2 linked regions of the Homo sapiens genome follow. The protein of the gene in region 1 purifies or fractionates together with the protein of each later gene. This does not show direct contact. Each region holds a gene or a part of one and is shown in the gene's direction. Other genes may lie near its edges.

Region 1 (4,342 bases):
TACACATACCCGAACATGCCCACACTGTCACACTGTTGTTAATAACAGGATACACTCATGACCTCCATTCTTGCCAAGCACTGCCTTAAGCACATTACAAAGTTAGTTTAACTCAATCCTTCCAACAGCCCAATGAGCTCTGAGGTGGGTGCTATTATCCCATTTTCCAGATGGAGCAACTGAGACCCAGAGAGGTTAAATGATATGTGAGGGGTCACACATCTGTGGCTGGCAGAGCCAGGATGTGAACTCACGTTGCCCAGCTCCACAGCCCAGCCACGGCACCCCATTCGGAACACTCACTTCCCAGCACTGGGAGCTCCAGCCTGGACGCCCGCTCTGGGCCCTGCCTTCTTGCTCCATCTCAGCCTCGCCCTGGGCTACAGCTGCCTTTCTCCCTGCAGAGGAGAGGAGCAGGTGGAAGGGATCCAGGCCTGAGCCGTTCTCAGCGTTCCCCTAACCTCTCTGCCCACCCATCCCTGGGACGCTCTGGGAAATTGCCTGGTGCCAGCTCTGAGTAAAGTTGCAGAATGAGGTTTAATTGTGCCCCCAGGGCACGAGATCAAACAGCAAAAGAAAGGGGTGTGAGCTACCTGGCATCCCTGGAACTGTGCCGAGACTGAGGTGATGAAGGAGAAGGTGGCCTTGGTTTGTCCATCTGTAAAATGGGGAATGATGGTCCTCTCTTGATGCCCGCCTGTGAGCACCAGGCAGCTGGTGCCTGAGGAGCTCCTGGCGTGGGCGATCAGAGCTGCCAAAGATGGGCCCTGTCCTCCCGGCCAGCACGCGGCGTTTTCCTCTGTGGGAGGGTCGCTGTCCCGGTATTCCAGATAAGAGGGTGGACGCCAGAGAGGGGAAGGGGCAGGATCTCACAGCCGATGAGGGGTGAGCCCGGGCTGGACCCAGGCCTGCCTGAGGCCGCGCCTCTCCTGCGCGGTGCCCTGGCGAGGTTGGGCTGCTGGAGCGTTTCCTCCATGCCTCCCGCTGCGCCCCGGTTGTTTATCTGCGCCCGGGTCCCCAGGGTCGCTCGCGAGGCCCTGCAGCCGCCCTCGGATAAACAAGCCCATGCGGGGCCGTAATTAAGCTGGATGCGCTAACGAGGCGGTTCATTAACCAGCTGGGGTTTGCGCGCCAGGAGACTCGGGCCCGGGCGTCGGGCTCACCTCCCCGCGCGGCTGGAAGACCCAGACTCCAGCTACAGATCTGATCACCCTGTAACAAGGTGGCCTCGGTTTCCTCATCCGCAAAATGGGTCCTAGGGTTTGCCGCCGCCCCGTGATGGGGCGCCGCCTGGGGAGGTGGGCCTTGGGATCGCACCGACGCTGAGGCCCGGGCGGAGGCAGCGACTGGTCGCGGGCCCTGCAGCGCGCCCGGGACAGGGCTAGGGAGGGGCGTCGGGGAGGAAGCTTCCCCGTCACCCCGGCTCGGGCGGCGGTTCCTGTCCCGGCGGCCCCCGCCTCCCGGAGCCGCCCTGCCTGGGCCCTGGCGGCGCGGCCTGGAAGGGACAGGGTGGGCCGGGTGCGCCCCCTGCCGGCCTCCTTGCGCGACTTCCCGCCAGGCCCAGGGCCGTCCCGCTCTGCGCCTCGGTTTCCCCAGATGTGAAACATTCCGGGCGGGGGTGGGGGCAGCGGCCGCGGCCGGAGGCCACGGGGTTGGGGCGCGGCTCCGCATGGGTCCTCGCATCGCCGAGGGGCTTCTCGGGACTGAGGGTGCTCACCCCGGGGCCGCAGCCTTGCCAGGCCAGCTCAGTCGCGCCCGCCCTTCCCGCAGTGGACGGCTGCATTCATCGGGCCGCCGGCCCCCTGCTTACCGACGAGTGCCGGACCCTGCAGAGCTGTAAGACTGGCAAGGCCAAGATCACCGGCGGCTATCGGCTCCCGGCCAAGTGTGAGTCCCCGACGCGCCCCCAGCTGTGGGGCGCAGACAGGGCGCCCGTGTGTCACTGGGACATCAGGGGTGCGGCCCCCACAGGAGTGCTGGGGAACTCCTCAGGGGGCCCTTCTTAACCTTAAGGGCCAAGACCCGGCCCCCACCCCGCACACCCCAGGAAGCACATGGGGGAGACCGTGCGTGGAGGCTGAGGATGGAGCTGGGGGGCAACGCCTTCGCGCCCACACTCGCGCTCGGGTCTCAGCCGGGCCCATACAGATGTGGGGAGGGGGCGCGGGGCTCTGTGCGCGTGCGGATTCGGGCTCGAGGGGGCCCACAGGGGTGGGGGCCTTCGCGGAGGAGGCTCAGCGCTTGGGGGGAAAGGTGTTTCCTGCCCCCTTCTGCCCAGGCCGGCAGGGGGAAGCGAGGGAGCTGAGGACCGCGTAGACCCCCGCCGGTCTGACCCCGTCGCCCCCCGTAGACGTCATCCACACAGTGGGGCCCATCGCCTACGGGGAGCCCAGCGCCAGTCAGGCTGCCGAGCTCCGCAGCTGCTACCTGAGCAGTCTGGACCTGCTGCTGGAGCACCGGCTCCGCTCGGTGGTGAGGGACGGCCCGCGGGGGAGGGCGGGAGGCGGGGCGCAGTGACAATGTTCCAACCCCCTCTCACCCCTCCCCGCCCAGGCGTTCCCCTGCATCTCCACCGGCGTGTTTGGTGAGTCTGGAAGAAAGGCAAGGACCAGGAGTGGGCGGTGGACCCAGACGCCGGGAGGGGCCGGGGCGGACAGGGGAGTGGGCGGGGCCAGAGCCTAGGACTCACTCCCGCCCCACCCGCCTCAGGCTACCCCTGTGAGGCGGCCGCCGAGATCGTGCTGGCCACGCTGCGAGAGTGGCTGGAGCAGCACAAGGACAAGGTGAGTCCTGGGCCCGGGCGAGGGTGGGGTCCGCATCCCGGCCAGAGTGACCAGCCCCCATCATCGCCCAGGGAGTCAGGGTGCAGAGCGCAGGGCCAGGCCCGCCCCTTCCTTCCCTGTTTCTCCTGCGCAAGGGCGCCTGGCGGTGGCGAGATGGGGGTGATGGCACACAGCCGTGAGCCTCCGTGAAGGGCGCAGGGCCAGGCAGGTGAAAGCCTGCACCAGGGCAGGCAGTCACAGGATCCTGGGGCCAGGCGTGGCAGCTCGGCCCAGGCTGAGCAGCCCCTGGCGCAGGTGGACCGGCTGATCATCTGCGTGTTCCTCGAGAAGGACGAGGACATCTACCGGAGCCGGCTCCCCCACTACTTCCCCGTGGGTACGTGCCCCGCGCCGCCCCACGGCCCGCCCCTGCCCCGGTCCACCCTGGGGGCGGGCTCTCACTGTCCTCTGCCTTCCAGCCTGAGGCTCCCGCAGCCCACCCTGACCGGGACTGGTAAGCAGGGCCTCGCCCCGTGCGGCGGCCCCGGCCCTAGACTAACCCGCCCACTAACCCCCGCTCACCCCCAAGCAGGGCGGGAAACCACGGGGCAGCCTGGGAGGTCGGGGACGCCCATAGACACCTCTGACTCTGCTCTGCCCTCAGACCCGCCTTCGGGACCCCGCTCCCAGCTCTGAGAGGTCGCCAAAGCCTGCAGCCTGGCCTGGGCCTGGCCACCCCTTCTTTCCCTCCGCGCCCCGCCCCCGAGGAGCCTAATAAAGATCTCGTTGTGGCAGCTCCTACTGTCTGAGCTCTGACTGGGGGGAAGGAAGGCGGCCCAGGTGTTGGATGGAGCCCCTGGCCAGATGCTTTCACTGAAAGGGGCTGGCAAGAGCTCTCGGTGAGCCAGGCGGGCAGAGGCACAGGCGGACGGCAGAGGCGGCAGCAGCAGTTCACATTTATTGAGGGCCTGCCCCCAAGGAGCTCACAGCCTGGGGGCTGAGACCCCGAATGTGCAGGGGGCGGGGAAGAAAAGAGGTGAAGGCAAAAAGGCAGGCAATGCAGAGACACCGTGGCCCAAGCAGAGGGGGTGCAAGGCAGGCACAGGCAGGGGGCCTGGGGCGGATGGGGAGGTGGAGAACCGGCAGCCCTGCCTAGACCTGAGGACTGTAGACCCCACACGTTTGAAGGCTGCCCTCCCCCACCAGGATGGCACTGCCCGGGCACCCTGTGGGAGGCCCAGCTCCTCCACCTGCCCTGAGCCGGGTCCAGCCTCACAAAGGCCCCTCCACCCAGGACTCCCAACCATGCAGACTCCCGGTGGAGGGCAGGAAGCTGGGGTCTGGGGCCCAGCCGGGACGTGGAGGTGGGGCCTATGAGGGAGCAGATGAAGTGTGGGTGGCCCTGGGACCCTGGGCAAGTCCCTAAGGAACTTCCAGGATCCCATAGAAGCCCCTGAGCCAGCTAAGAAGGGAAGGAAGCAGAACCCAACGAAGCAGGAGGGGCCTCCAAGAGGCCTGGCCCCTCAAACCTGCTCCTGTTGGGGAAGCTCAGGAGTAGATAGGTGAAAAGCAGGGGGACC
Region 2 (7,286 bases), on another chromosome or scaffold:
TCCACTTCCTAGGTTCAAGTAATTCTCTTGCCTCAGCCTCCCAAGTAGCTGTGATTACAGGTGCCCACCACCACGCCCAGCCTGGGCTAATTTTTATATTTTTAGTAGAGACGGGGCTTCACCATGTTGGCCAAGCTGGTCTCGAATGCCTGACCTCAAGTGATCTGCCCACCTTAGCCTCCCGAAATGCTGGGATTGCAGGCATGAGCCACCATGCGCAGCCTAACTCAGAATCTTTTGTATAGTTAAAAAAAAGGAAGCATGTTTTCATTTATAGTAAGGTTACACCCAGGTTACTGGTAGAACATAGGTTTGCAATTCTTTCCTTGGGAGATGAATGTTGATGTTGCTGTAGAATGATGACTTGAGCCATAAGAAAATTTAGAGCCTCATTTAGGATGTCAGGGCTGAACCTATACTAATGTTGATTTTTTCTCTCTCTCCCTTTCTAGGCTCATGTGTATTGTGAAGGAAATGATGTCTATGATGTCATGCTAAATCAGGTAAGAGGCAAGAAGAGGTGGCACCATTATATTTATGAGACCATCTTCTTGATAATTATTGATGATAGCATCACAGTGTTCAGATCTTTAAAGTCCCTTTTTTTTTTTTTTTTAAATTTTGTTTTTTCTTTTTGAAATGGAGTCTCACTTCATCTCTCAGGCTGGAATACAGTGGCACAATCTCGGCTTACTGTAACCTCTGCCTCCCAGGTTCAAGCAATTCTCCTGCCTCAGCCTCCCAAGTAGCTGGGGTTACAGGCGTGCACCACCACTCCCAGCTAATTTTTTGTATTTTTAGTAGAGACAAGGTTTCGCCACGTTAGCCAGGGTCTGGTCTCGAACTCGTGACTTCAAGTGATCCACCCACCTCAGCCTCCCAAAATGCTGGGATTACCAGGTGTAAGCCACCACGCCTTGCCTAAAGTCCTTCATATGTGTGTGTGTATATATATATATATATATATATATATATATATATATATATATTTTTTTTTTTTTTTTTTTTTTTTTTTTTTTTTTTGAGACAGAGTCTTGCTCTGTCACCCAGGCTGGAATGCAGTGGTGCAATCTCGGCTCACTGCAATCTCTGCCTCCTGGGTTCAAGCAATTCTCCAGCCTCAGCCTCCCAAGTAGCTGGGACTACAGGTGCAGTGTCTGGCTAATTTTTTGGTATTTTTAGTAGAGATGGGGTTTCACCATGTTGGCCAGGCTGGTCTTGAACCCCTGACCTCAGGTGATCCACCCACCTCACCCTCCCAAAGTGTTGGTATTACAGGCATGAGCCACTGCGCCCGGCAAGTCCTTTATATTAATATTAGCCATTAGTGGTTAAACACCTGAGTACTCAGCCCTAGCACACTCTTATCAGATAGCAGAGTCCTCTGTGAGAAGATTTTTTTTTGCAAATTTCATATCATTTATTGAAATTGTTAACTCTCTGTTCATATCCTTTTGCACATTTTTTTTTTTTTTTTAAACAGACAGGATCTTGTTCTGTCACCCAGGCTGGAGTGCAGTTTGTACAGTCATAGCCCACTGCAACCTTGAACTTCTGGGCTCCAGCAATCCTCCCACCTAAGCTTCCTGAGTAGCTCGGACTTCAGGCGCATGCCACAAAGCCTGACTAATTTTTAAATTTTTTATGGAGATGAGAATCTCGCTATGTTGGATAGGTGGTCTTGAATTCTTGGCCTCAAATGATCCTCCTGCCTTGTCCTCATGAGGCACTGGGATTACAGGGATGAGCCACTGGGACAAGCTGTTTTGCACATTTTCTAAAGTTATTGGTCCTTTTCTTACTGGTTTCGAGGAACTTTATATAATATGGAGAATAGCCTTTTGTCTGTAATACAAACCACTTGTGTTTTCCAGATTTGTCATTTACCTTTTGGTTTTCCTTATAGTACACTTTTTGCCCATATTGAAGTTTTAAATTTTTTCTGTAGTTAAATTTATTAATTTTTCCTTTTTAAAAAATTTTGGGTTTTTTTTTTTTTAATTTTAGAGACAGTGTCTTGCTATGTTGCTCAGGCTGGCCTTGAACTTGTGACCTCGTGTGATCCTCCAACCTCAGCCTCCCAAGTAGCTGGGACTACAGGCATCTGCCCCCAAGCTCAGCTTTCTTTTTAATCAACCTTTTTCTCTTGTTTACCTTTGTGGTTTTGAGTAGATAATACATTTGCCTCATTAATATATTTCCTGGATATGACTTCATGTTTGAATTTATTGATCCAACATATATAATTTTAACAACCAATTAGTATTTATTTCTTACTATTTCTTCTACTTAAAATACCACGAGCAGATAGAAAATACCTTAAGGTTAGCCAGGTGCAGTGGCTCACGCCTGTAATCCCAGCACTTTGGGAGGCTGAGGCGGGCGGATCACCTGAGGTCGGGAGTTCAAGACCAGCCTGACCAATGTGGAGAAATCCCATCTCTACTAAAAATACAAAATTAGCCAGGTGTGGTGGCATATGACTGTAATCCCAGCTACTCGGGAGGTTGAGGCACGAGAATTGCTTGAACCTGGGAGACGGAGTTTGTGGTGAGCCGAGATCGTACCATTGTACTCCAGCCCTGGGCAACAAGAGCAAAACTCCTTCTCAAAAAAAAAAAGAAAAGAAGGAAAATACCTTAAGGCAGCCAGGTGTGGTGGCTCATGCCTGTCATCCTAGCACTTTCGGAGGCCAAGGCTGGAGAATCACTTCAGGTGTGAGTTCAAGATCAGCCTGGGCAACATGGTGAAACCTTGTCTCTACAAAAAAATACAAAAACACCGGGCATGGGCCAGCTACTTTGGAGGCTGAGGTGGGAGGATTGCTTGAGCCTGGGAGGTTGAGGCTACAGTGAGCTGTGATTGAGCCATTGCACTCCAGCCTGGGTGACAGAGGGAGACCCTATCTCAAAAAAATAAAAAATAAAAACCATAAAAACATTTACAAAAAAATTTTTTAAAGGAAAAGAAAATATCAAGCTGGGCATGGTGGCTTATGCCTAAAATCCCAGCACTTTGGGAGGCCAAGGCGGGCAGATCACTTGAGTTAGGGGTTCAAGACCAGCCTTGCCAACATGTTGAAACTCCATGTCTACTAAAAATACAAAAAAAAATTAGTCTGGCATGGTGGCGTGTGCCTGTAATCCCAGCTACTAGGGAGGCTGAGGCACAAGAAATTGCTTGAACCTAGGACACAGAGGTGGCAATGAGCGGAGGTTGCACCACTGCACTCCAGCCTGGGCGACAGAGCAAGACTCTGTCTCAAAAAAAGAAAATATCTTAGGCTCCTTTTTGTTCTAACATCTAATGACCTTTTTTTTTTCACCAGTGGGCTAAGGTCGTACAATGGCTTTAGAATGTGAGCAAGCAGGAGATAGAGGTAGGAAGGGGCAGCATGCTTAACAAAAAAGAATGCCTCCATATCCAGGGCTCGGCCATACAACACCAGCTGCTATGCCTTATCATGGACTTCTCTCTCTTCACTCTGAGTGATTTACTTACAGATACCTCTTTTTAGATACTGGCCATATTCTCTCTCAGTATCTCCAAGTCAGGTCAGGTTAGGTATGGGACGGATGTGGCAGTGGTTTTGCGTATCCCTTGTCCCCTCCCATTATTGCCCTGCTCTCAGCTCATTGTCAAATTTCTGCAGCTGACAAACAAAAGCTGTGAGTAGAACTGTCAAGGAGTAAGTCATTTAACAGTTGAGCATAACAGGTTTAGACCTTTGGAGCATCCAAATTGTTTTCATTTGGGAAATAATTATTGGGAGTGGATTGGGAGCTGGAAAACACATATAGCTTAGAAAATATCTAAATAGGGAGCTGAGGCAGGAAAAAACTGGAGGAGCCATTCAATGTAGGATATTTGAGGTTGGATAGAGGGTTTTAGGAAGCTTCTAGGCTCCCACTTTAATTCCTAAGAATCCAAAGTTTAATGTATAAGCCCTATTTCTTCTTTATATCTTTAATCTTACAGGAATCTAATTTTCTTGCCTGATGCTATCCTTTTCCTTATGGAAATAACTGGCACCTGTGACGAAGGATGAGTCATTGGTTTATGTGATTTCCATTTGCAAAACTCCTTTTTTTTGTTTTTGTTTTCACTCAACATAGACCAATCTCCAGTTCAACAACAACAAGTACTATCTGATTCAGCTATTAGAAGATGATGCCCAGAGGAACTTCAGTGTTTGGATGAGATGGGGCCGAGGTAATGATTTTTATTGAGATTTTATGAGTTGGCATTCAGAAAGTCAGAAGCAGCTTAGTGGGTGGCCAAAGGATTCTCTGGGTTTAAATTGGGTCAGTAGAGGCTCTGAAGTCTGGGAGAGCCTTAGGAATCAAGTTGAGCATCTTGAAATTGGGGAATGGCAGGCATCCTCCTTAGAGTTCCCACTGGAAAAACTAAGAGCAGCCCATTGAGTCTGAAAACTCTTCTATAGTTGAACTGCTAGTAGTGCTCATAGACTATGGCAGTTAGCAAGTAACTTGTATCAACATGATTAGTTCCCTAAATCCTTTCACCTTTCCCTTCTCCCTTTCCTGCCTGTTTGTCAGATGTTAAGCAGAGAGATCTTGGAGAGCTGGCCTGTTACTCTTAGGGAACTATCTTATGTGTGGCATTTCCTTTGCAGTTGGGAAAATGGGACAGCACAGCCTGGTGGCTTGTTCAGGCAATCTCAACAAGGCCAAGGAAATCTTTCAGAAGAAGTGAGTGCTGAAAAGTGACTACAAAAAAATATACCCTCCTCTTCTTAGATGTATATTCTCTAAAAAATTTTTTTTTAGACAGTTTCACTCTTGTTGCCCAGGCTGGAGTGCAATGGCATGATCTGAGCTCACTGCAACCTCCACCTCCTGGGTTTAAGTGATTCTCCTGCCTCAGCCTCCCTAGTAGCTGGGATTACAGGCGCCCACCACCACGCCCAGCTAATTTTTGTATTTTTAATAGAGATGGGGTTTCGCCATGTTGGCCAGGCTGGTCTCGAACCCCTGACCTCAGGTGATCCGCCTGCCTCAGCCTCCCAAAGTGCGGGATTACAGGCGTGAGCCACCGTGCCCTGCCTTCTCTAAGAATTTTATAAGTGTGTGGCTTATAAAAAACTTTTCGTTTTATAGGTGTGATTTGGCCTAAATGTTAATGTCTTTTCACCCTGACATTCTGTGGTTGAAACACCAAACTGCATCCTTAGTGATTAAATCAAACTAATACCTTGAAAGTCACTAAAAACAGAAGAATCTAATATATTTAACACATGACTGACAAATTTAGGAAATTTGGGATAAGTGGAGACTATCCTGGGATAGATAATATTCAACTAGGGGCTGAGCACGGTGATGCCTGTAATCCCAGCACTTTGGGAGGTTGAGGCAGGAGGATTGCTTGAAGCTAGGAGTTTGAGACCAGCCTGGGCAACAAAGCGAGACCCCTGACTCTCCCCCAAAAAAAAGGAAAGAAAAAAAGAGAATATTCAGTTAGAATTTTTAAAACTTTATGATATAGATGAAGAACTTTCTGGAGAATTGGAGAACATGTTTCTTTCAGGGAAAGAGATTAGATGGATATCTTTTGTTTGAAATCTCAATGGCTTTTGTGGTGTTTGGGAAGGACAAGCATTGTTTTTCCCATTTTTTAAATTCCATTTGTCTCCAGAGCTTTTTTGTCCATTTAGTGTCCTCATTTAGAATTAGACTAATTTTGATTTATGGAAAGTTGATGTGTAAAGGAGCTCAGTGCTGGAAAATAAATTCTTTGGAGATTTTCTGTCTTGTAAGTCCATCTTCATAGTAGACCTTTATTTGTAAAGTTTTCTTACACCTTGGACTCTACAGATTCCTTGACAAAACGAAAAACAATTGGGAAGATCGAGAAAAGTTTGAGAAGGTGCCTGGAAAATATGATATGCTACAGATGGACTATGCCACCAATACTCAGGTAACTCTCACTATACTTTTCGAAAGAAACACATCTTCTTTTTTTATTTTATTTTTTAGAGGCAAAACTGTGCTCTGTTGCCCAGGCTGGGTGGCACAATCATGGCTCACTGCAGCCTCAAGATCCTCAGGCTCAAGTGATCCTCCCACCTCAGCCTCCTCAGTATCAGGAACTACAGGCACGTGCCACTCTGCCCAGCTGATTTTTTTTCTTTTTTTTTTGTAAAGATGAGGTTTCACTATGTTGCCCAGGCTGGTCTCGAATTCCTGGGCTCAAGCAGTCCTCTTGTCTTGGCCTCCCAAAGTCCTGAGATTACAAGCATGAGGCACCACACCTACTCCTGTTTCTTCTTACTCAGGGTAAAGCAGAATAGCTTAGATCATTCCTGGACTGGGACAGGCCAGGATATCTTGAATCCTTTCTACTTCTCACCTCAGGGGTGCTCTCACTGATCTTTGTAATCCCAAAGGGACAGTAAGAATGAGGATAGAATGTGCCTTTCTAGTCTTGGCTCTGTTATTTACTAAGGTTCTTTTTTTTTTTTTTGAGCTGGAGTTTGATTCTTGTTGCCCAGGTTGGAGTGCAATGGCTCAGTCTCAGCTCGCTGCAACCTCCAGCTCCCGGGTTCAAGCGATTCTTCTGCCTCAGCCTCTCAGGTAGCTGGGATTACAGGTGCCCGCCACTATGCCCAGCTAATTTTTTTTGTATTTTTAGTAGAGACAGGGTTTCATCATGTTGGCCAGTCTGGTCTTGAACTCGTGACCTTGGGTGATCTACCCGCCTCAGCTTCCCAAAGTGCTGGGATTACAGGCGTGAGCCATCACGCCCGGCCTACTAAGTTTCTTATAAAATCTTAGGCCCTATTTCCAGACGTTTATTGTTTTTTTCGTTTTTTTGTTTTTGTTTTTTTTTGATACGGAGTCTCGCTCTGTCGCCCAGGCTGGAGTGCAGTGGCGCGATCTCGGCTCACTGCACGCTCCGCCTCTGGGTTCACGCCATTCTCCTGCCTCAGCCTCCGGAGTAGCTGGGACTACAGGCGCCCGCCACCACGCCCGGCTAATTTTTTTTTGTATTTTTAGTAGAGACGGGGTTTCACCATGTTAGCCAGGATGGTCTCGATCTCCTGACATCATGATCCGCCCGTCTTGGCCTCCCAAAGTGCTGGGATTACAAGCGTGAGCCACTGCGGCTGGCACCAGAAGTTTATTGTTATGGACCAAGAGAGGAGTGATAAAAAATCAAACTGATTAAACAATTAACATTTAAATTTGTTTTCACTTCTGGATATATACCACCATAAAAAATTTAATTTAGATAAACTGAGGTATACCAGGATGCTGAAACTGTCC

The links.
Region 2: the proteins of MACROD1 (region 1) and PARP2 purify together in Homo sapiens (affinity purification with mass spectrometry; 2 studies listed by BioGRID and IntAct, with this or other methods). This does not show direct contact.

The regions. Positions count from the first base shown.
Region 1 is NC_000011.10:63,997,772-64,002,113, reverse strand, and holds the end of MACROD1 (ADP-ribose glycohydrolase MACROD1), read left to right. Parts: intron 1-1,770; coding exon 1,771-1,887; intron 1,888-2,350; coding exon 2,351-2,472; intron 2,473-2,553; coding exon 2,554-2,584; intron 2,585-2,709; coding exon 2,710-2,783; intron 2,784-3,077; coding exon 3,078-3,159; intron 3,160-3,241; coding exon 3,242-3,246; 3' UTR 3,247-3,276; intron 3,277-3,426; coding exon of another isoform or gene 3,427-3,458; 3' UTR 3,459-3,556; downstream 3,557-4,342. UniProt on the Homo sapiens protein: Removes ADP-ribose from aspartate and glutamate residues in proteins bearing a single ADP-ribose moiety. Inactive towards proteins bearing poly-ADP-ribose.
Region 2 is NC_000014.9:20,346,411-20,353,696, forward strand, and holds part of PARP2 (poly [ADP-ribose] polymerase 2), read left to right. Parts: intron 1-452; coding exon 453-503; intron 504-4,115; coding exon 4,116-4,212; intron 4,213-4,636; coding exon 4,637-4,712; intron 4,713-5,834; coding exon 5,835-5,937; intron 5,938-7,286. UniProt on the Homo sapiens protein: Poly-ADP-ribosyltransferase that mediates poly-ADP-ribosylation of proteins and plays a key role in DNA repair.